Linked DNA regions of Homo sapiens: regions 2 and 3 are each linked to region 1. Evidence: fine-mapped expression QTL. A gene starts in region 1. Each other region holds a variant in brackets. All regions are shown on one strand. Distances are from middle to middle.

Region 1 (7,388 bases):
GTAACGTGTAAGAAGTGGCAGTGGTGGAGAAGCAGCCTGGGAGAGCAGTCCAGCCCAGAATCTAAGATGTAGCAGCTGGGTCAGATGAAAGATAAGGCCACCAGGTAATGCAGCACACAGCAGCAGTGGCCTCTGAATCAATAACAATGGACTACCCCAAAGAAAGGAAATCAGTACATCGAAGAGCTATCTGCATTCCCATGTTTATTGCAGCACTATTCACAATAACCAACATTTGGAAGCAACCTAACTGTCCATCAACAGATGAAATGGATAAAGAAAATATGGTATTACACATAATGGAGTACTATTCAGCCATTAAAAAAATGAGATCTTGTCATTTACAACAACTTGGATGGAAATGGAGGTCATTATGTTAGGTGAAATAAGCCAGGCACAGAAAGACAAAGTTCACATGTTCTCAGTTATTTGTGGGAGCTACAAATTAAAATAATTGAACTCATGGAGATAGAGAGTAGAAGGATGGTTACCAGGGGCTGGGAAGGGTAGTGGACAGGGGTGAGGGGTAGGGCCGGGGGAAGTGAGGATAGCTAATAGGTATAAAAAATGGAAGGAGTAATAAGATCTAGTATTTGATAGCACGACAGGGTGTCTATAGTTAAAAATCACATTTTTTTATTTCAATAGCTTTTGGGGTACAAGTGGTTTTGGGTTACATGGATGAATTATATAGTGGTGAATTCTGACATTTTAGTGTACCAGTCACCTGAGTAGTGTACATTGTACCCAGTAGGTAGCTTCTTATCACACACCCCCGTCCCACCCTCCCATTTCTGGGTCTCCAAAGTCCGTTATATGACTTTGTGTACCTTTGTGTACTTAGCTCCTACTTCTTTGGTTTTCCATTCCTGGGTTAATTCACTTAGAATAATGGGCTCCAGCTCCATCCAAGTTGCTGTAAGACATTATTTGATTCCTTTTTATGGTTGAGTAGTATTCCATAGTGTGTGTATATATATATACCATATTTTCTTTATTCACCCATTAGTTGATGGGCACTTAGGTTGGTTCCATATCTTTGCAATTGTGAATTGTGCCATAATAAATATATTTGTGTAGGTGTATTTTTCATATAATGACTTATTTTCTTTTGGGTAGATACCCAGTAATGGGAATCCTGGATCAAATGGTAGATCTACTTTTAGCTCTTTTAAGGAATCTCCACACTGTTTTTCATAGAGGCTGTACTAATTTACATTCCCAACAGCAGTCTGTGTTCCCCTTTCACCACATTCACACCAACATCGACTATTTTTTGATACAGTCAATTTAGTTGTACATTAAAAATAAGAGTATAATTTGATTGTTTGCAACACAAAGGATAAATGCTTGACATAAAAGATACCCTATTTACCTTGATGTGATTATCATGCCTGTATCAAAATATCTCATGTAACCCAAAAATATATACACCTACTATGTATCCATAAAATTTTTTAAAAATTAAGAAAAAAGAATGACTGACCAGCTATCAAAGGCCTTAGAAGCCTCTGAGCCCTGTGCCTTGTTGCCCATATACTCCTTTCCCTTAGAGAAGAGCAGGGTTAGAGGTGCTGACAGAGAACAAAGCAAGTGGGAGAAACAGGTATCTCTTTGTTCTCCCAGGCCTCTCCTACTCAACAGTGAAATAAGATCTTGATTTTTATCTGAGATCTTTATGTTTGCTTTACCCAACACCCAGCACCTGAAGTTATGTGCAAAATTTTGTGTGTATAAGCATCTTCTTGGGAAGATAGTGTTCATTATGGCCTCAAAGTTGTTCAAGATCTGAAAACAATTTGAGAAACACTAGATTAAGTGGTTTCTAAGGCCCCTGTTTTCAAATTCTATGATTTGATAATACTCAATATAATTTATTTGAATTTATAAAAAGGATCATTAAGGAAGTGTCAGGTTTCAAGAAGCCAAGAAATATCACTTTGAGAAATATACTAAATATTAACATCAGGTAATACAAAGCCGTTTTCTCTGTTGTGAATGGGGAACTGATATGGTTACTATTATGTGTGAACTTGGCTAGGCTAGTTAGACACACTGTATGCCCAGCTGTTCGGTCAAACACCAGTCTAGGTGTTGTTGTGAAGGTATTTCTTAGAAATAATTAACATTTAAATTAGTAGACTTTGAGTAAAGCAGATCACCCTTCATAACCTGGGTGAGTCTCATACAATTGGTTTTAAGCTTTAAGAACAAAGACAGGTTTCCCAAAGAAGGAAGTCTCCTCAAAACTGCAACATGGAAACTCTTCTTGAGTTTCCAGCCTGCTAGCCTGCCCCACAAATATCCAGGACTTGCCAGCCCTCACAATCACATGAAGCAATTCCTGAAAATAATAAACCTCTCTTTCTCTTTCTCTCTATCCTATTGTTTCTATTTCTCTGTAGAACCCTGACAAGTACTGGACCCATTAGTCATTTATTTCGAATTACAATAATTCACACACACACACGACCAAAATGGCCAGCACTGGTGAAGGCAGTCAGTCCTTGAGGCCACTTGGAACAAATCAGTACTGTTGAACAGGGTACAAAGAAAAAAAACATACTCTTCCAGGTGTATGTTCCAAGCTTCACGTTGTATGGCCAAAGAGCCAATTTTGTCAAATTGTCTGAAAGCAAGTTGATTAACACGACAATTTGGTCAAAAGAATGACTTGGCCCTGTGCAGTGGCTCACGCTTGTAATCCCAGCACTTTGGGAGGCCGTGGCGGGCGGATCACGAGGTCAGGAGATCCAGACCATCCTGGCTAACATGGTGAAACCCCGTCTCTACTAAAAATACAAAAATTAGCTGGGCATGGTGGAGAGGGCCTGTAGTCCCAGCAACTTGGGAGACTGAGGCAGGAGAATCGCTTGAATCCGGGAGGCGGAGGTTGCAGTGAGCCGAGATCGCAGCACTGCACTCCAGCCTGGGCAAACAAGGGCAAAACTCCGTCTCAAAAAAGAAAAAAAAAAAAAAAGAATGATTTGGCTGGGCACAATGGCTCACACCCATAATCCCAGCACTTTGGGAGACAAAGGTGGGAGGATCACTTGAGGCCAGGAGCTCAAGACCAGCCTGGCCAATATGGCGAAACAGAGTCTCTACAAAAAAATGCAAAAATTAGGCGGGCGTGGTGGTTGTAGTCCCAGCTACATGGGAGGCTAAGGCAGTTGGATCGCCTGAGCCCGGGAGGTCGAGGCTGCAGTGAGCTGAGATGGCACCACAGCACTCCAGCCTGGGCGACAGAGCAAGACCCTGTCTAAAAAAAGTTTTGATTCAAAATGAGTATGTATGTATGTATGTATGTAAGTATGTATGTATGTATGTATGTATGTATGTATGTATGTATGTATGTATTTTGAGGCAGAGTCTTGCTCTGTCGCCCAGGCTGGAGTGCAGTGGCATGATCTCGGCTCACTGCAACCTCCGCCTCCCGGCTTCAAGTAATTCTCCTGCCTCAGCCTCCCCCGTAGCTGGGATTGCAGGAGCCCGCTACCACGCCCGGCTAAGTTTTGTATTTTTGTAGAGACGGGGTTTCACCATGTTGCCCAGGCTGCTCTCAAACTCCTGACCTCAAGTGATCCGCCCGCCTCGGCCTCCGAAAGTGCTGGGATTACAGTCGTGAGCCCCCGCGCCCAGCCAAAATGATTATCTTTTACCTTTTAATTGACATACCAGTTGGCACTGTTAAACGTTTTCACACAAAACATATATTCATATGTTTGCTAATTTTACAAAAAGAAGATAAGGAATATTTTCAGGCCCCGGCTTCACAGATTGCTGGTGGCAGTGGAGAGGTGGGTGGCGCAGGTGGAACCACCTCCCCACTACTTGCAGATCAGGACCCTCCCCGGGAAAGCTCCAGGCCCAGGAACCTAAGCCGCAAGAATCTCGAAATTTCCACAGGACACCTTGTTCCTTTTGGCCAAGTGTCTGGATGAGCCCATCCCCTTGGGCAGCAACAAAAGGTAAAGGGTCTCTGTGAGGCTTTCAGATTCCAAAAAAAAGCAACCGCTGGAGTGGAGTGTGATGGTCAAAGCAGCCACCTTAAGCTTTCTCCTTTCTTTCCCACTAGAGGGCTGAGAAAAGTCTTCTTCCTTGCGTTGTATTTCATTTGGCAAATATTTACCGCTTTGTATTGTGTGCAAACTTTACCAGGTTTTCTGGGAAGAGAAGTCGTGGGGAGCTCTCAGTTTGTTAATAAATATTAATACTTTTGGCCAAATTTTGAATTTTTTATGTCACTTGTTTTATTTCATTTTTGAAAAACAGCACTTTATTTCATTTAACTCTAGCATATTCAATGGCTGTGCATTTAATAATACTGAAATAAAGTCGCACCCAAAATGTTAGCAAAAAAATGGAAACTATATATGGTAGTGACCTCTACAAATGTTTTAAGCTTGAAAAATTCTGCACGAACGCAGACACAGGTTAGTCTGCCAAAGTTACTCAGATAAAAATTTCTCCAACCCTCAAGTCATAATCATAGTTGAGAAATGAATAAATGTGCCTTATGGCACCTCCAAACTTTTTGAGATTTTTATATAAACTAGCCTATACTTCTCTCCTTACGATTAGCATATGGGGTAGCTATTTTTCTTTAACAGAGATTCTTCAAATGTAGCTAGGGTTAAGAGAAACGCTGGCGCTGCCTCTCAGGAAGCTGGAGAAGCAAAAGAAAAAATTAAGAGTTAAGGGCCGCCGGGCTCGGTGGCTCACGCCTGCAATCGCAGCAATTTGGGAAGCCGAGGCGAGCGGATCACGAGATCAGGAGATCGAGACCAGCCTGATCAACATGGTGAAACCCCTTCTCTACTAAAAATACAAAAATAGCCGGGCGTGGTGGAGCGCGCCTGTAATCCCAGCTACTCGGGAGGCTGAGGCAAGAGAATCGCTTGAACCCGGGAGGCGGAGGTTGCAGTGAGCCGAGATCGCGCCACCGCACTCCAGCCGGGGCGACAGAGTGAGACTCCGTCTCAAAAAGAAAAAAAACAAGAGTTAAGGGCCAAGTCAATCCAACCGCGGCCGGCGACTGGAGGCTGAGCATGGCTGGCGATCTGGGGCTGCAGATCACGGCGCAAACCCGCTCACCTCCACCCCTCCCGCGCGGCCGCCGGCGCGCGCCCGTGGCGTCACGGCGTCGGGGTGGAGCCGGCGGCAGGGGCCAGGCCTCTCTAGGCTCTCCGGCTGAGCCGGGTTGGGGCCCGGGTTGGGCCGCCCGGGGACTCTGGAGCATTGGGATTTGTAGCGCGCCCTCTGGGTAGGCGGCTGTAGCGGAGAGGCGTGCGGGATCGGGATGTCGGGGCTGCTCACGGACCCGGAGCAGAGAGCGCAGGAGCCGCGGTACCCCGGCTTCGTGCTGGGGCTGGATGTGGGCAGTTCTGTGATCCGCTGCCACGTCTATGACCGGGCGGCGCGGGTCTGCGGCTCCAGCGTGCAGAAGGTGACTTGGGGGCGGGCGTGGGGCGCGGGTCTGACTGGGTTTCGCTGAGTCCCGGGGTCCGGCCTCGGGAGGCGAGCGGGCAGGCCCCACCTACCGCCCTGGACGCGGCCACCTGCAGCACCCGCGGGCCCTGGGGCCAGAACGGCGCGCCCAGACCGGCTGAGTCTTCGCGTTCCCTCCCTCGTCTGGGCTGAATCCCGCGCGCCCTTCCTGTCCAGGCTGAGGGTGCCAGGGGCCCGGTGTATGACCTGGGCCGCTCGCTTGCCTCTTGCCACCTGGGGAGCCACCTGTCCGGCCTTACCTGGATGGGACTGAGGTGACTCGCCGGACGGGACTGGGCAGGCTGTGCACATCCAGCCAGAGGGTGGTTTGTGAGTTGCTTGGTTCTTCCTGCACTTCCCTGATAGATCTCCCACCACATCTTTATTTACATTTTAATTTTTCAAAACTTTTTTTCTTTTTTCTTTATTATAGCCTTTGGACTTGTGCCTCAATAACTTTTCATATCTTTGTAGAATTTAAGTTTATTCTCTATTCTTCACTTGTCATCTTTATTAACTACTACTCCACAAAATGCTGGTTCCTTACGTGAGCAACTGATTGCCGTGGATATTAGAGGTATTGGGCAAGTTTTGAAGGCTGTGTGGTCATCAGTTTTCTATTTTCCATCTTTGAGAATTCATAAAATTCTTTATTTCCCCTCGTTTGAGAGACCTGCCAAATCATTGGTTGGTTGTTAGTAAAGCCTTGAATTGTTGATAATATTGGTCAGCAACCAACAAATTGATATCCTTCTGTTCTCATATTAATGAAGTGTTGATTTATACACAATTGTCAATGCACCAAAAATAATATTTATTTGTTATGGTGTTCTTATTGTTGTTCCTTTTTTTCTTTTGAGACAGGGTCTCACTTTGTCACCCAGGCTGGAGTGCAGTGCTGTGATCTCGGCTCACTGCAGCTTTGACCTCCTGGGCTCAAGTGATCCTTCCACCTCAGCCCCCCAAGTAGCTGGGACTACAGGCAAGGGGCCACCATGCCTGGCTAAATTTGTTTGTATTTTTTAATAGAGATGGGATTTTGCCATGTTGCCCAGGCTGGTCTGGAAATTCCTGGGCTCAAATAATTCACCCGCCTCGGCCTCCCTAAGTGCCAAGATTACAGGCGTGAGCCACTGCAGCCAGCCTGTTATGGTGTTCTTATTTTCTCTTCCCAGTACCAACATCTTTTTATGTTAGAAATTTGAGGGAGGGCCGGAGCCATCAGTTACCTAACCATTCCCAGCAGCACTGTATTCCCCCTTTTTCTCAGTGTCCCGTTCTTCTTCCCACCACCTTAGAGGTGTTTTTCTTTGTAGCACTTGCCCAGGAGCAAGGTCCAGCTAGAGTGCCAGTGAGTAGTGACTGCTTTGAGCATTTGTTCTGGGGAAACATCAGACTTCCTTCCATTAAGTTTTTCTTTTTTTTCTTTTTAGACGGAGTCTCGCTCTGTCACCCAGGCTGGAGTGCAATGGCATGATCTCGGCTCACTGCAACCTCTGCCTCCTAGGTTCAAGCAAGTCTCCTGCCTCAGCCTCCTGAGTAGCTGGGATTGCAGGCACCCGCCATCATGCCTGGCTAATTTTTGTATTTTTGTAGAGACAGGGTTTCGCCATGTTGGCCAGGCTGGTCTTGAACTCTTGACCTCAGGTGAACCGCCTGCCTCAGCCTCCCAGAGCACTGGGATTATAGGCGTGTGCCACTGTGCCCGGCCTCCATTCAGGTTTCAGGACCAAGACAGTGGAACTGGGATTGTAGCAGCTCCCTGGTCCCTTCTCTGGCTAGCTGTGTGGGAACACTGCCCACCCACCCACACACTATCCCTATCCCAGCCTGAAAAGAAAAATGAAAGGCAGACACCACCCTTCAGTGACTGGGTACTCATTACCTTTCTAAGAGTA
Region 2 (7,388 bases), 46 kb before region 1:
GCAGTTATGAGACAAATGCTGGTGTTTGTAAGCAAAGGACTCAGGAGTTTAAACCCCAGAATCTGCACACATTGCAGCATAAACTGAAACAAATTAGTAAGGCAGTTTTTGTGGCCTTTGTGATTATTTATTTATTTATTTATTTATTTATTTATTCATTTATTTTTGAGACGGAGTCTCACTGTGTCGCCAGGCTGGAGTGCAGTGGCACAATCTCAGCTCACTGCAACCTCTGCCTCCCAGATTCAAGCGATTCTCCTGTCTCAGCCTCTGAGTAGCTGGGACTACAGGTGTGCGCCACCACGCCCAGCTAATTTTTGTATTTTTAGTAGAGACAGGGTTTCACCCTGTTGGCCAGGATGGTTTCGATCTTTTGACCTTGTGATCCGCCTGCCTTGGCCTCCCAAAGTGCTGGGATTACAGGCGTGTGCCACCGCACCCAGCCTGTGACTTTTTTAACCTGTAATCCACCATTGCCAGATAAATCTTCCCTGAATTCAAAACATGCACACACACACACACAAACACAGACACACACACACTTCTCCCAAATCAAGAACTTAGTCAAATACTAGCAGTCTCTCTCTCTCTTTAACCACAAAGCAAGGAGAAGAACCTACAGTCTTAACCAGTATTTATGGGGTTATCAGATAATGATTTCTCAATTACACTTCCTCTAGGTCACTAAGTGAAGTAAGTCATCATTTTTTGCCAGAAATAACATCATCTGGTATTTCTACACTTATGAACAGCAAGTAATACAAGTTACAATTATATGAATCATCTTTGATTCTGCCTTTCCTTCCCCCTTCCTCGCCTCCCAAATCCAGTTGGTTCCCAAGTCCTAGTGTGTTGTTATCTCCTGTATCTGCCCTCTTCTCTCCATCCGTATGGTTAATGCCTTCATGCAGGTCCTCTTCCTCTCATATTTGGACTGTTGCAATAGTCCACTATTTTCCCTCCTTTCAGTCTTGAACCACTTCAGTCCATAAAAATAACTGTAAGAAATACTGTTCACAGATCAAGCACTTCATAAGCATTCTGTCATTTAACCTTTACCACACTGTCATGAGAGAGCCATTATTATTCCTGTTTTCTGATTAAAACTCAGGGAAATGAAGTGACTTACATGGGAACACACAGATGGTGAATGGTAAAGGCAGAATTCAAATCTAAATCTGCATGATCCTAAAGCCAGAGACTGAGACACCATGCAACACTGCCTGCCTCCCCACTCTGCTATCAGAGGCTTCTGCTAAAATGAAACTGACCTGCTTCCTGGCTCAGAATTCTTCAATCACACCCCATTGCCAATTGCAGGGAATCTTTTTTAAAGCCATAGAATCCTTTAATCAATAAGATTGAAAGCATTATTCTTCTATATAAAGCAGATAAAAATGTAGCTGACATGCTTGGTGCAGGTGTGGAGATCTAGCTGACTTGCAATGGTAGTGCCAAGAGATGTGTGGACTCCCACAATTTAATGGAAAACATTCATAAGATTCTTCCCATTGTTTGATGTAAAAGTAGTGTTAGGTAAAACATTATGTAAAATAAAGATTCAAGCTTTCTCTTCCAGCCAGATAGATGTCTCTCAGTGACTTTACTGCAGTTCTCCCACGCTCACTGCAACTCATCTTTTCCCTCTGCTCCCCTCCCAGTTCTAGACCTGAGGCTCTGGCCCTTGCACTCCAGATTGGGCAATAGGAGTGAAACTCCATCTCAAAAAAAAAAATAAATAAATAAACCTAAAATAAAATAAAGGGAATCCAAATAGGTACAGAGGAATTTAAACTGTCACTGTTTGCTGACAATATGATCCTTTACCTTGAAAACCATAAAGACTCCTCCAGAAAGCTCCTAGAAATTATAAAAGAATTCAGCAAAGTTTCCAGATACAAGATCAATGTACACAATTCAGTAGCTGTTCTATACACCAACAGTGGACCAAGCGGAGAATCAAATCAAGAACTCAACCATTTTTACGATAGCTGCAAAAAAAAAAAAAAGGTAGAAATATACCTAACCAAGGAGGCAAAAGACCTCCACAAGGAAAACTACAAAACACTGCTGAAAGAAACCATAGACAACACAAACAAATGGAAACACATCCCATGCTTATGGATGAATAGAATCAATATTGTGAAAATGACCGTACTGCCAAAAGCAATCTACAAATTCAATGCAATTCCCATCAAAATACCACCATCATTCTTCACAGAATTAGAAGAAACAATTCTAAAATTCATATGGAACCAAAAAAGACCCCACATAGCCAAAGAAAGGCTAAGCAAAAAGAACAAATCTGGAGGTGTCACACTACCTGATTTCAAACTACACTACAAGGCCATAGTCACCAAAACAGCATGGTACTGGTATAAAAATAGGCACATAGACCAATGGAGCAAAATAGGGACTCAGAAATAAACCCAAATACTTACAGCCAACTGATCTTGGACAAAGCAAACAAAAAGATACAGTGGGGAAAGGACACACTTTTCGACAAGTGGTGCTGGGATAATTGGCAAGCCACATGTAGAAGAATGAAACTGGATCCTCATCTCTCACCTTATGCAAAAACCAACTCAAATCTAAAACCTGAAACTATAAAAATTCTAGAAGATCAAGCACTTTGGGAGTCTGAGGCGGGCGGATCACAAGGTCAGGGAGATCAAGACCATGGGCCTGTCGTGGGGTGGGGGGCTGGGGGAGGGATAGCATTAGGAGAAATACCTAATGTAAATGACGAGTTAAAGGGTGCAGCAAACCAACATGGCACATGTATACCTATGTAACAAACCTGCACGTTGTGCGTGTGTACCCTAGACCTTAAAGTATAATTTAAAAAAAAAAAAGGAAGAAGAAAAAACATGGAGATAAAAAGACCACCATCAGATATTGGCTGGGAAAGGAAGTTGAGACTGACATTGCAGAGTGGTTACTCCCAGGCAACAAAGAATTAATACTAATTCATTCAAATGAGAGAGTGTCATCTGCTCACACTGTAATTGGCTATTAAAGCTTAGTAATTGATACCAAGAGACTTTGGCTCCCAGCATTTGGCCCAGCTGTCATGAAGTCAGCACAGTCAAGACTGACAAAGAAGCTTTGTTGTTGCTCATGGTGATCACTGAGAGTTTTAGACAAAGAAAAATCATTCTTAGAATATGGGGTCTTTGGCTTGCTGAAAAAAATGTCTGTCCAATTTCCTTGCCAAGTTTTAAGACTCCAAACAGTAAGAAGGATGAGTTTGATGATGTATATTTTGTTATTTCTTTACTTATTATTGCTTTCCCACTACAGTTTATTATAAATATTTCCAAATGCACACAAAAAGGGAACAATATGTCAGTGAACATCCATGTACACATTCGTTATATTCTACCATTAACATTTTCCTCTTCTTACTTCAGCGTATACTGCTCCTTCTATCCATCTCTCTTTCCATCTAACAATCCATCTTATTTTGTATACATTTCCAAGTAACTTGTAGACATCAGTATATTTTCTCCCCCAAAATTTCAACGTGCATATCATCAACTACAGTTCAATATTTGTACGGTTTGTTTTTGTTTCTTTTGAGGTAAAATTTACAAAAAATGAAATGCACAAATCTTAAGTGTACTAATTCATGAGGTTCAGCA[C/T]GTATATACACATGCAACCTAAACCATGATCAAGACACTGAACATCACCATCACCCACAGAAAATTCCTTCATAGCTGATCCAATGACTCTCCACCCCCAACCCCCAGAAACAACCATTGTTTTGAAATTTTTCCACCACAGATTAGTTTTCCCAGTTGTAGAACTTTATATCAATGGAGTAATACAGTATGTATTGTTTGCGTAAGGTTTCTTTTTCTCAATATAATGTTTTGGGATTCATTCATGCTATTGTGTGCATCAGTAATCTGATTCTCTTTATTTCTGAATAGTAGTCCATTGTGTGGAGAATACAGCTAGTTATTTATTCTTTAACTGATGGCCAGCTGGGCTATTTCCGGTTTGCCACTCTTAGGAATAAAGCAGCTATGAACATCCTTGTACAAGTCTTTTTGGGGACATTTGTTTTCCTTTATCTTGGGTGAATACCTAGGAATTGAATTTGTGGGTCATAAGATAGGCATTTGTTTATTTTCAGAAGAAACTGTCAGGCTTTTTGTAAAGTGGGTGTGCCATTTTACGTTCCCACCAATGACAGATGAGAATCCAGGCTACTTCACGTCCCCGCCAACATTTGTCTTGTCAGTCTTCAATTTTTACCAGTCTGTTTGATATATAGGGGTTCTGTTTATTTATTTACCAAAACAGGGTCTCGCTGTGTCACCCAGGCTGGAGTGCAGTGCTGTGATCATGACTCACTCACTATACCTCCACCTTCTGGACTCAAGCAATCCTCCCACCTCAGCCTCCCAAGTATCTGACACTATAGGTATGTGCCGCCACGCCTGGCTAATTTTTAAATTTTTTGTAGAGACAAGGTCTCACTATGTTGTTTAGGCTGGTCTGAAACTCCTGAGCTCAAGCGATGTTCCCACCTCAGCCTCCCAAAGTGTTGGGATTACTGGCATGAGCCACCATGCCAACTTATTTATTTTTTGATAAATACATTAACACAACCAGATCTATTTACTTTTTCTACTTTAGACAACAAAGTCAGGTTATTTTTAGAAAAATCAGTCATGCGCACTTAGAGAAATTGATAAAACTTTGTTTTCTTGTACTCAGGGAATTAGAATATTTTATTTTATATATTCTTTTTTTTTTCCTTTGGTAGACAATTCCACTGGAAAATTAGGAATTTTTTTTGTTTTTTGAGATGGAGTCTCGCTCTTTCGCCCAGGCTGGAGTGTAGTGGCACGATCTCGGCTCACTGCAAGCTCTGCCTTCCGGATTCAAGCCATTCTCCTGCCTCAGCCTCCCGAGTAGCTGGGACTACAGGTGCCCGCCACCATGCCAGCCTAATTTTTTGTATCTTTAGTAGAGACGGGGTTCCACCGTGTTAGCCAGGATAGTCTTGATCTCCTGACCTTGTGATCCTCCCACCTCGGCCTCCCAAAGTGCTAGGATTACAGGCACGAGCCACCGCGCCCTGCCGAAAATTAGGATATTTTTAAATGTACTTGCATTCTCTTTTCTTAGACCCCGTCTTATTTTTGGACTTGCAGTTTTTTATTGTGGTAGAATACACATAATAAAATATGCCATTTTTGGTATTAAGAACATTCATGGTGTTGTGCAGCCATCACTACTACCTAATTTCAGAACATTTTTATCATCCCAATGGGAACTCTGTACCCATTAAGAAGTCATTCTCTACTCTTTTTCCTCACAGCCCAGGCAACCACAAATCTGCTGTCTACTGTGTTTTTTGTTTGTTTGTTTGTTTTTGAGACAGGGTCCTGCTCTGTTGCCCAGGCTGGAGTGCAGTGGCACAATCTCAGCTCACTGCAACCTCCACCTCCTGGGCTTAAGTGATCCTCCCACCTCAGCCTCCCTAGTAGCTGGAACCACAAGCACAGGCCACCATGCCTGGCTAAATTTTTTTGTATTTTTTTTAATAGAGATGAGGTTTTGTTATGTAGCCCAGGATGGTCTCGAACTCCTGGGCTCTAGTGATCCACAAGCTTCAGCCTCCCAAACTGCTGGGATGACAGCCATGAGCCACCACGCCCGGCCGTCTGCTCCCTATTGTATGGATTTGCCTACTATAGGTATTTCATACAAATGGAATTATACAGTATGTGGCTGTTTTGTGATTATATGATATAAGGTATAATTACAGTTCCTTTGCATGGCCGGACACTCAAAAACGCTACCATGCAGGACCACACCTGGGGACAGGGTAACAGCAAGCTGGAACTGTAGAAGCAGCTTATGTATGACAAACAGGGTGGGGTTAGCTGGGTGTTGTGGGCTTCCTAAAGATTGGGTATTCTGAATAATTCCATGGGCCCCAGGAAGAAGAGCCAGTCCCTGGCTGTGGGTACCTTGGGGCCTCTTGCAGTTGAGTGTGTATGAACAGAAATCCAGAGTGCTACAGCCCAAGAAAGGAAGTGGCTAGGGTGGAGCCTTAGCAAACTGCCCATGAAGGGAAATTGAGAGGTGTAGACATGACCTCAAAACTGAGTCAAGACAGCACTTGTGAAATATGATTTTACTACCATGACCTCAAAACAGGATCAAGACAGCATTTGTGAAATAAGACAGGATAGCACCCGTGAACAACAAGAACCTGAGGTGTGAAGTCGCCGGGATGGAGAGTTAGCAAACTGTCCACAAAGGGGCAGCAAGACTTTTAGCCAAGTTTTAGCTTGACTCAAAATTGGGTCAAGATAGAACTTGTGAAATATTCTATTACAGTGGCCTTTTGCGTTAGGCTTCTCTCACCTAACATAGTGCGTCCGGGGGTCATCCATGTTGCAGCGTGTATCAGTCCTTTCTTTTCAAGGCTGAATAATATTCCACTGTATCCCATATTTTGTTTATTCATTCAGCTGCTTAATGGGCATGAGGGTTGCTTCCACCTTCTGGCTATGGTGACTTGTGCTGCTGAAAACATTAATGTGCAAGTTTTTATTTGTGCACCTGTTTTCAGTTCTCAAGGGCATATACCTAGGATGAAATTGCTGGGGGTTATGATTTAACTTATTGAGATGCCTTGAAAGGAAAGCATTTTCCACAGCAGCTATATCATTTTTCACTTCTACCAGCAATGTGCTGTGTTTCTTTACATACTTAACAACACTTATTTTCTATTTTTTAAAATTATGACCATCCTAGTGGGTGTGAAGTGGTATGTAGTCGTGGTTTTAGCTTGCATTTCCTTAATGACTAATGACAATGAGAATCTTTTCACTGGCTTGTGGGCCATTTGTATCACTTCTTTTAAGAAATGTCAAGTCTCTTTCCCATGTTCTATTGAGTTGTTTGTCTTCTTACAGGAAGTCTCTTTTAACTCCAAAAAACAACCTTCTTTCTCCAAATAATTTTATCTTATTTTTAGTATTTGCAGTGTTAATAGGGGATTAAGGTTTGTTTATTCCAACATGTGATATTTTTAAGGCATGGTAAAACAAAGAGTGTGCATTGTTTACCTAAAAGGATCAACTTTTCAGATGACACTATTCTAGTTTTATGAAAAGAGCTGAATATCCTGATTAGAAGGTATTACGTTGCAATGAAATTCAAATCTTTAAATCCTATTATCAGAACCGGTGGCAAAAACATTGCTTTTGTAATTGAAGAAGTTAAACACAATGGAGAAATAGTGAGTCTCCTCAATTAAACCTCATTAATCCTCCAAAATAATTTTTAATGTAGACAAAATACTGTTAAAAATTCATAGAAAATGAGGCCTTAATGACCTGAATTCTAGGCTATTTTTA
Region 3 (7,388 bases), 65 kb after region 1:
AGCTCAGGGATAACCCATATGACAATGACTAAGAGGAGAAAATTTTAAATAAGCTTCATAACTTAAGAAGCATTGCTTTTAAAAAAACAAAACGGAACAAAAAACTCTTATTTTTTTCCCCTAAACCATGGTAAGGCAGCAATACCTCAAAACTTTATATCTTCTATTTTGTAGCAAATTCCAAAGGACATTAGTCATTTCCAACCACATTTTGACAGTTATGGGTCCTCTTCCTTTTTATACTGGGTCAGTGGTACATAGGAACATAATGATTTACCATCCAAGCTAATAGTTCTGGGTCAAGTACCATGCACATATTGTTCCAAAATTATGTGAAACGTATTTCTTTAATTCTTTAAGTGGGCTATTTGAAGTACATATAGCTAAAAAGAAAGAATAACTGAGAAAATGTGGAATTTTGAAACATTAATATTTTATGTTTAAAGCCATAATTTCCTAATATTATATCCAAATATGAGCTTAATATGTCCCTCTCAGATAAGCTTATGAGATAGTTAATGCTTTCCTTTACTGGTCTTAAAGACACTGCCTTAATTTTTCCTTGTTCAACCAAAATCTGAGCATTCTTTCTATGTTGAAAACACTGAAAAACTAATTTTAGTTAATGAACTAGAAAGAATATTGATTTTTAAGAAACAGAAAAATACTACTTATTTTCCTTCTCAAATAACGTTTCTTTCAAAAACTTCTGGCTGAAGTATAACATGCTGGTAGTTAACATAAATCTTGTCTTTCTCTTGTTCTTTATCTTTCTTTGTTATTTAGATGCTTGTATAAATGTCTTTTGTTTTTATTAAGTGCCTAATTGACAGAGCTTAATTTGAAGAAGTGCCCTAATTTATTGACCACTTAAGAATTGCCTTTATTGGGGTATTTTATTTGTTCCTGCGTCTTTTTGATGTTTGTTCAGTCTACTCATCCCTGTGAGTATGTGTGGGGGACAGCTGATAGAAGGGAGGAGAGTGTGTCTATGCTCAGGATTGCCCTTTAGCCACTCAGCCAGAGATCCACAGGGAGCAACAAGGACAGTTTCACATGCTTAGACTTTCTTGGAAGAAACAGTGAGGAGGAGTAAGTCGTGAGTAGTGTCAAGCTGGATGTAGAATTGTCCTAAGGCAGTTGACCCCACCTTCCAACATGTTTTCACTTTATTTGCCCCTCCCTACATTTGGGTTAGGTTCCATTTGGATTTGCAGCAATAATGACTTTATTTCTCTCTTGGTCAGGATTTGGCACATAAAATCCTTTTATTATAGAACTAGCTATTTTAGTTACATAGTAATGTAACTAATGGAGAGATTTATAGAGAATTTTGTTTTTGCTGTCATATATGTCCATTTTGGAGACAGATATGATAGAACTAGAAATTAAGTTGCATTTCTGCAAGTGCCATTTGAATGAACTTCAAGTATCTTCTTAATTATTAAATTTTCTGATGAAGGCATTGTAACAAATATATAGTATTATTAAATCTAATTAATATTTGGAAATATTAATAAATAGGTATTTTATTTACTGTAAAAAGTCAAACTTCATTATGTAGATAAATCTTATTCTTTTCATTCTTTCCCCTGTTTACATCCTTTTTACAAAGCTTAGTCACCAATTAAAGCTTTCCTATCAAAATCACATGGAAGCTGCTCTGTTGTTTTACTGTTACACATTCTGTTTCTCAGTGGGTGTAATTTTTTTTTCTTTTTCTTTTTTTGTAGAGACAGGGTCTTGCTGTGTTGCCCAGGGTAGTCTTTAATTCCTGGCCTCAAGTGATCCTCCCACCTTGGCCTCCCAAAGTGCTGGGATTGCAGCCGTGAACCACTGCACCCAGCCAATGGGTGTAATTTCATAGGAAATAATTCTTTTTGTCAGAATGTACTGAATTGTAATATTAATACCTGAAAATTTGTTAGTTCACTTCTTTTCCACGTTCTTCTTTCCCAACATATAACCACAAAATAAAGGATAAATACTTTGGGCTGTGTGCAGTGGCTCATGCCTGTAATCCCAGCACTTTGGCAGGCTGAAGTGGGCGGATCATTTGAGGTCAGGAGTCCAACCTGGTCAAACACGGTGAAACCCTGTCTCCACTAAAAATACAAAAATTAGCTGGATGTGGTGGTGCAAGCCTGTAATCCCAGC[TA/A]CTCGGGAGGCTGAGGCAGGAGAATTGCTTGAATCTGGGGGGTGGAAGTTGCAGTGAGCCAAGATCATGCCACTGCACTGTAGCCTGGGCAACAGAGCGACACTGCGTCTCAAAAAAAAAAAAAAAGGATCAATACTTTTCAGATAATGTTGGAAAGTAACTTTGAATGTCCCTCATCGGAATTGAGCATCTCCTCAAGTGTCAGTGGCTATTTTTTTCTTCTGTGAATCTAAAAACTAATATTTTATTTTTAATATTTGTGGCCATTTTTAGTGATAAGACTTTAATAAATATTTTTGGACTTAACTAAAATCAGAAACATGACCACATTTGCTTTTGTGGTTGCAGAAACAGTTGATAAGATCAATTGAGCAACAAAATTGTCCTTTCTTTTTTTTTTTTTTTTTTGAGACATTGTCATGCTCTGTTGCCCAGGCTGGAGTGCAGTGGCATGATCTCGGCTCACTGCAACCTCCCTCTCCTGGGCTCAAGCAGTCCTCCTGCCTCAGCCTCCCAAGTAGCTGGGATTTCAGGTATACGTCACTACGCCCAGCTGATTTTTGTATTTTTAGTAGAGACAGGGTTTTACCATGTTGGCCAGGCTGGTCTCAAACTCCTGACCTTGTGACCCACCCACCTCGGCCTCCCAAAGTGCTAGGATTACAGGCGTGAGCCACCATGCCTGGCTTGTCCTTTCTGTCTTCCAAGTTTGTTTTTCATTTGTATGCTAATATTTGAAGTTTAGAAAAATTTGTGCTACTTCTCAGCATGTTTTATTTTCCCATTATAGATCTATCAGATATTTTTAGAAGGTCTGCAACTGTCTGATAAAGGAAGAGAATGTTCCTGTTCAATCTATCTTAAAGTGCTACTAATTGCTTTTATACTATAGACATACTGATTTTTTCATCTTTTTTATCCAACCATGGCATGGTTTCCTAATCTCAGCATTGACATTTTGGACTGGATAAATCTTTATTTTGGGATGCTATGCTGTACTTTATAGGATGTTTAGCAATATCCCTGACCTCTGCCCTCTAGCTACAAGTACCATCCCCCTAGTTGTTATGGCCAAAAATGTCTTCAAACATTGCCATTCTGAGAGGCAAAATTGCCCCCAGTTGAGAGCCACTGATACAGGCTGTTAGAAGAAAATCGAAGACTCAGTGAATATAGTGTCATACTCCTTTTCTTTCTGCCTCATTTTACCTTAGGAAATGGTTGTTAGCAAAAAAATTAGTTAATCGTATCTTGAAATAAATAGGGTATCTATTTTGCTGATTAATAAAGAAAAAATAAATCTCAGCTGGGCACAGTGGCTCACACCTGTAATCCTAGCACTTTGGGAGGCCAAGGCAGGCGGATCACTTCAGCTCAGGAGTTTGAGACCAGCCTGGGCAACCTGGCGAATCCCTATCTCTACAAAAAATACACAAATTAGCTGGGTGTGGTGACACACACATATAGTCCCAGCTAATTAGGGGGCTGAGGTGGGAAGATCACTTGAGCTCCAGGAGGTGGAGGCTGCAGTGAGCCAAGTTGGTGTCACTGTACTCTAGCCTGGGTGGCAAAGTGAGACCCTGTCTCAATCAATCAATCAATCAATCAATCAATATCTCATGCTGTAATTGTCTTCTGATGTTTTCATCCACCCAGCCCCACCTCTGCAGCCTTAATTACTGGAGTAGGTCCATGATTTCAGTGTAGGGTTAATGTATTCTGCAGATCATCTTTGATTTGACCTGCTTTTTTGCTTCCTTTTTATCTCTGAACAAAGGAGATCATCATTCTCTTTAATCTGCCTTCTGTGTAAATCTCTACCAGACTGGAAGCTCCCTGAAAGCAGAAACTGTCTGCTTCCCCAGAACTTAGCACTGTGCTTTCATGTATGTGGGATAAATTTTTACTTTGTTAGTGCAACTTTGTTTGTACACGTTATCCTTGATATTACATACATTTGTTGATGGGGGCAATTTATATTTGTTGTGAGTAAAATACTTTTTTGTTGGATTAAGAAGAACTATACTCTTCCCAGCACTTTGGGAGGCCAAGGAGGACGGATTACCTGAGGTTAGTAGCTTGAGACCAGCCTGACCAACATGGAGAAACCCCATCTCTATTAAAACTACAAAAAAATTAGCTGTGCGTTGTGGCACATGCCTGTAATCCCAGCTAGTCAGGAGGCTGAGGCAGGAGAACCGCTTGAACCCCTGAGGCAGAGGTTGCGGTTGAGCCGAGATCGCGCCATTGCACTCCAGCCTGGGCAACAAGAGTTAAACTCCATTTCAAAAAAACAAAAACAAAAACAAAAACAAAAAAACAAAAGAAGAACTACTCTGTAGTGAGAGCTAGAATCCTCATGTTGTTTATTTAAAATTTTTGGCCAAGTACAGTGGCTCATGCCTGTAATCCCAGCACTTTGGGAGGCTGAGGCCAGAGGATCACTTGAAGCCAGGAGTTCAGTTACAGCTTGGGCAGCAAAGTGAGACCTTGTCTCTACAAAAAAATTTTTTTTAAATTAGCCAGGTGTGGTGGTATGCCCCTGTAGTCCCAGCTACTCAGGAAACCGAAGCAGGAGAATCGCTTGAACACAGGAGTTTGAGGGTGCTATGAGCTATGATTGTGCCACTGCACTCCAGCCTGGGCAACAGGGCAAGGCCCTGTCTTAATAAAATAAAATAAAATTCTTAATATGTTTATATATTTGAAAAACTATTTGTGTAGAGACACATGTCTGTAAATACACATAGATATATTAACTTTTTAAGCTTTAATTGAAGCCTTTCTCTTCACAGGTTTTATATATTTGACTGCAGATGACTAACAGATTGAATTTTAAGAGTGCGAAACACTCTGGTGCTATAGGGAAGGAACTTCATAAATAGCCCCTCCTGTAAGGGACCAGTCTTTAATTTAAAACAGTCCAGCCCAGGAATCTTGCAAGAATTTTGTAATTATTTGAGGAGAGATGTAGATATACCCTGGAGTTCTTTGACTTTAAGTTATTCTAGAGTCATCCCAGAGATGGCCTAGAAGACTTGAATGTACCCCAAAGGATTCTGAATCCCTTTGGGAAATTTAGACTATGATTTTCAGTAAGAATTAAAAGCCCCAGGATAAGCGTGGTGGTTCACACCTGTAATCCCAGCAATTTGTGAGGCCAAGGCGGGAGGATCGCTTGAGCTCAGGAGTTCGAGACCAGCCTAGGCAACATAGTGAGACCCCACCCATCTCAATTTAAAAAAAGAGAGAAAAAGGCCAGGTGTAGTGGCTCACGCCTGTAATCCCAGCACTTTGGGAGGCCAAGGCGGGTGGATCACCTGAGGTCAGGAGTTCAAGACCAGCCTGATCAATATGGTGAAACCCCATCTCTACTAAAAATACAAAAATTAGCCAGTCCTGATGGCATGTGCCTGTGGTCCCAGCGACTTGGGAGGCTGAGACAGGAGAATTGCTTGAACCCGGGACGTGGAGGTTGCAGTGAGCCGAGATTGGGCCACTGCATTCCAGCCTGGGTGAGAGAGCGAGACTCTGTCTCAAAAAAAAAAAAGAGAGAGAGAGAGAGAGAGAGAGAAAGCCCCAAACATACCTTGGGCCTTTACAACCTACTTGGTCCCAGAATCGTCTTATTGTAAACCCAAAGCCAGGTCTTCTGGTTCGAACCAGTCAAAATGGGTAATCTAAAAAAGTTAAATAGATGATTCAAAATCGTGTTGGTGGTTTTTTCTTTTTAAATCCCCTTTCCAAGTAAAAGGAATCTTTTTTTTTTTTTTAAGTTTTGAAGCCTCATAGCCATAAATATTTTGGCACCAGCATCTATTGGCACCTAAGTCATTGGCTGTATCATATTCCCATGGGACCCTTGTTCCTAGAGGAATGCAGGAATGATCTTGGAGTGGGAAGGACAGAAACAGGTGCTTGCAAAATCAGATATTTCTGAAATTCTCTGTTATTCTATTTCTACTGTCTTTCCCCACTTTACTATAAATTTGATCTGTTATAAAATGGCTGTGTTTAGATAGATACCCGTGATGTTTAGGAAACAAATGATATAGAGACTCCCATTTAAATGAATCTTATCTTTATAAGAAACAGCCAAACTGTTTTCCAGACTGGCTATACCATCTTACATTCCCACCAGGAATGTATGAGTGATCCAGTTTCTCTGCATGCTCGCCAGCATTTGGTGTTGTCACTATTTCTTATTTCAACCATTCTGTTTATCCTTTTCAGTGAAATATCTGTTCATATCTTTTGCCCATTTGCCAATTGAGGCAGGAGGATCACTTGAGCCCAGGAGTTCGAGGCTGCAGTGAGATATGATCACTAAATGTTTGCTTAATGAGCCATATCTTTAAATATCTTTTTTAAAGTTTTTAAAAGTCAGTCCAGTGGTTTATGTGATTATGTGGGATTTTTTAAATCTTTCCAGGCAAAATGTGTATAGCATTTTGAACATATTTACACTGTACTGAGCCCAAGAGTTCTCATATTCTTTCTTTGCTCATTATAGAGTATGGTACTAATACTGTATAATAGTAAATTTTCAAAGATACCTTTATTTAGAATGTTAGAGTATACAGATATATACTTTGTACATAGTTATCATAATGTTTCTAACCTTTTTATTTAAAGCAGGCTGATTTGTGTAAAGGTTTCAGAATGATTTTGTTAATAAGTTATTAGAAACTTTCCTATTTGTACAAGATGGTAAATGTAGATTCCAATTTGTATGCCTCAGTAAATTCATAATCTTATTTCTCTGATGTGAGCCACTGTGCCTGGCCTTCTGTGATGCTCTTAATGAATTTTGCAGTTTTATTAAATTGTCATTGAGAACCTCATAAATCATTGTTAAGATCTATACAAAAAATCAAGGATCCACAGTAATAGAATATTTTTCATCTGCATATGAATTTTTCCCTTCCCTTTTTGTCTACTTTTAGATTTAAAAAAAATTACCAGGACATTCTTATTAAATACTATTACCTGTTTTGGTTTCTGCACATTAAGAAAGTCACAGAGAAGCCAGACACAGTGGCATGCTCTTCTATTCCCAGCTACTCAGGAGGCTGAGGCTGGAGAATCACTTGAGCCCAGGAGTTTGAGGATATCCTGGGCAACATGGTGAAACTTGGCAAAAACAAAAACAAGGCCGGGCATGGTGGCTCACACGTGTAGTCCCAGCACTTTGGGAGGCCACGGCTGGCGGATCACGAGGTCAGGAGAT

The links. PIP is the estimated chance that this variant, and not a neighbour inherited with it, causes the effect. A credible set is the group of variants that fine-mapping cannot tell apart.
Region 2: its variant is the best candidate, but not a certain one, in a credible set for the expression of GK5 in fibroblasts (GTEx, PIP 0.90).
Region 3: its variant is the best candidate, but not a certain one, in a credible set for the expression of GK5 in whole blood (INTERVAL, PIP 0.80).

Annotation. Positions count from the first base shown.
Region 1 is chr3:142,223,370-142,230,757 of GRCh38, reverse strand. GK5 (glycerol kinase 5) reads left to right here and starts at 5,173. Exons shown (of 16, transcript NM_001039547.3): 1 at 5,173-5,449. The coding sequence starts at 5,303. RefSeq lists silencers at 4,990-5,229, 5,420-5,639.
Region 2 is chr3:142,269,383-142,276,770 of GRCh38, reverse strand. No RefSeq gene overlaps it. Among named protein-coding and RNA genes, the nearest start is that of GK5, 47 kb to the right of the region's middle. The variant C/T (reference allele first, on the strand shown) is at 3,645.
Region 3 is chr3:142,158,174-142,165,561 of GRCh38, reverse strand. It overlaps GK5 (glycerol kinase 5), which reads left to right. Exons shown (of 16, transcript NM_001039547.3): 16 at 1-7,388. Among named protein-coding and RNA genes, the nearest start is that of TFDP2, 12 kb to the right of the region's middle. RefSeq lists an enhancer at 538-1,273. The variant TA/A (reference allele first, on the strand shown) is at 2,158.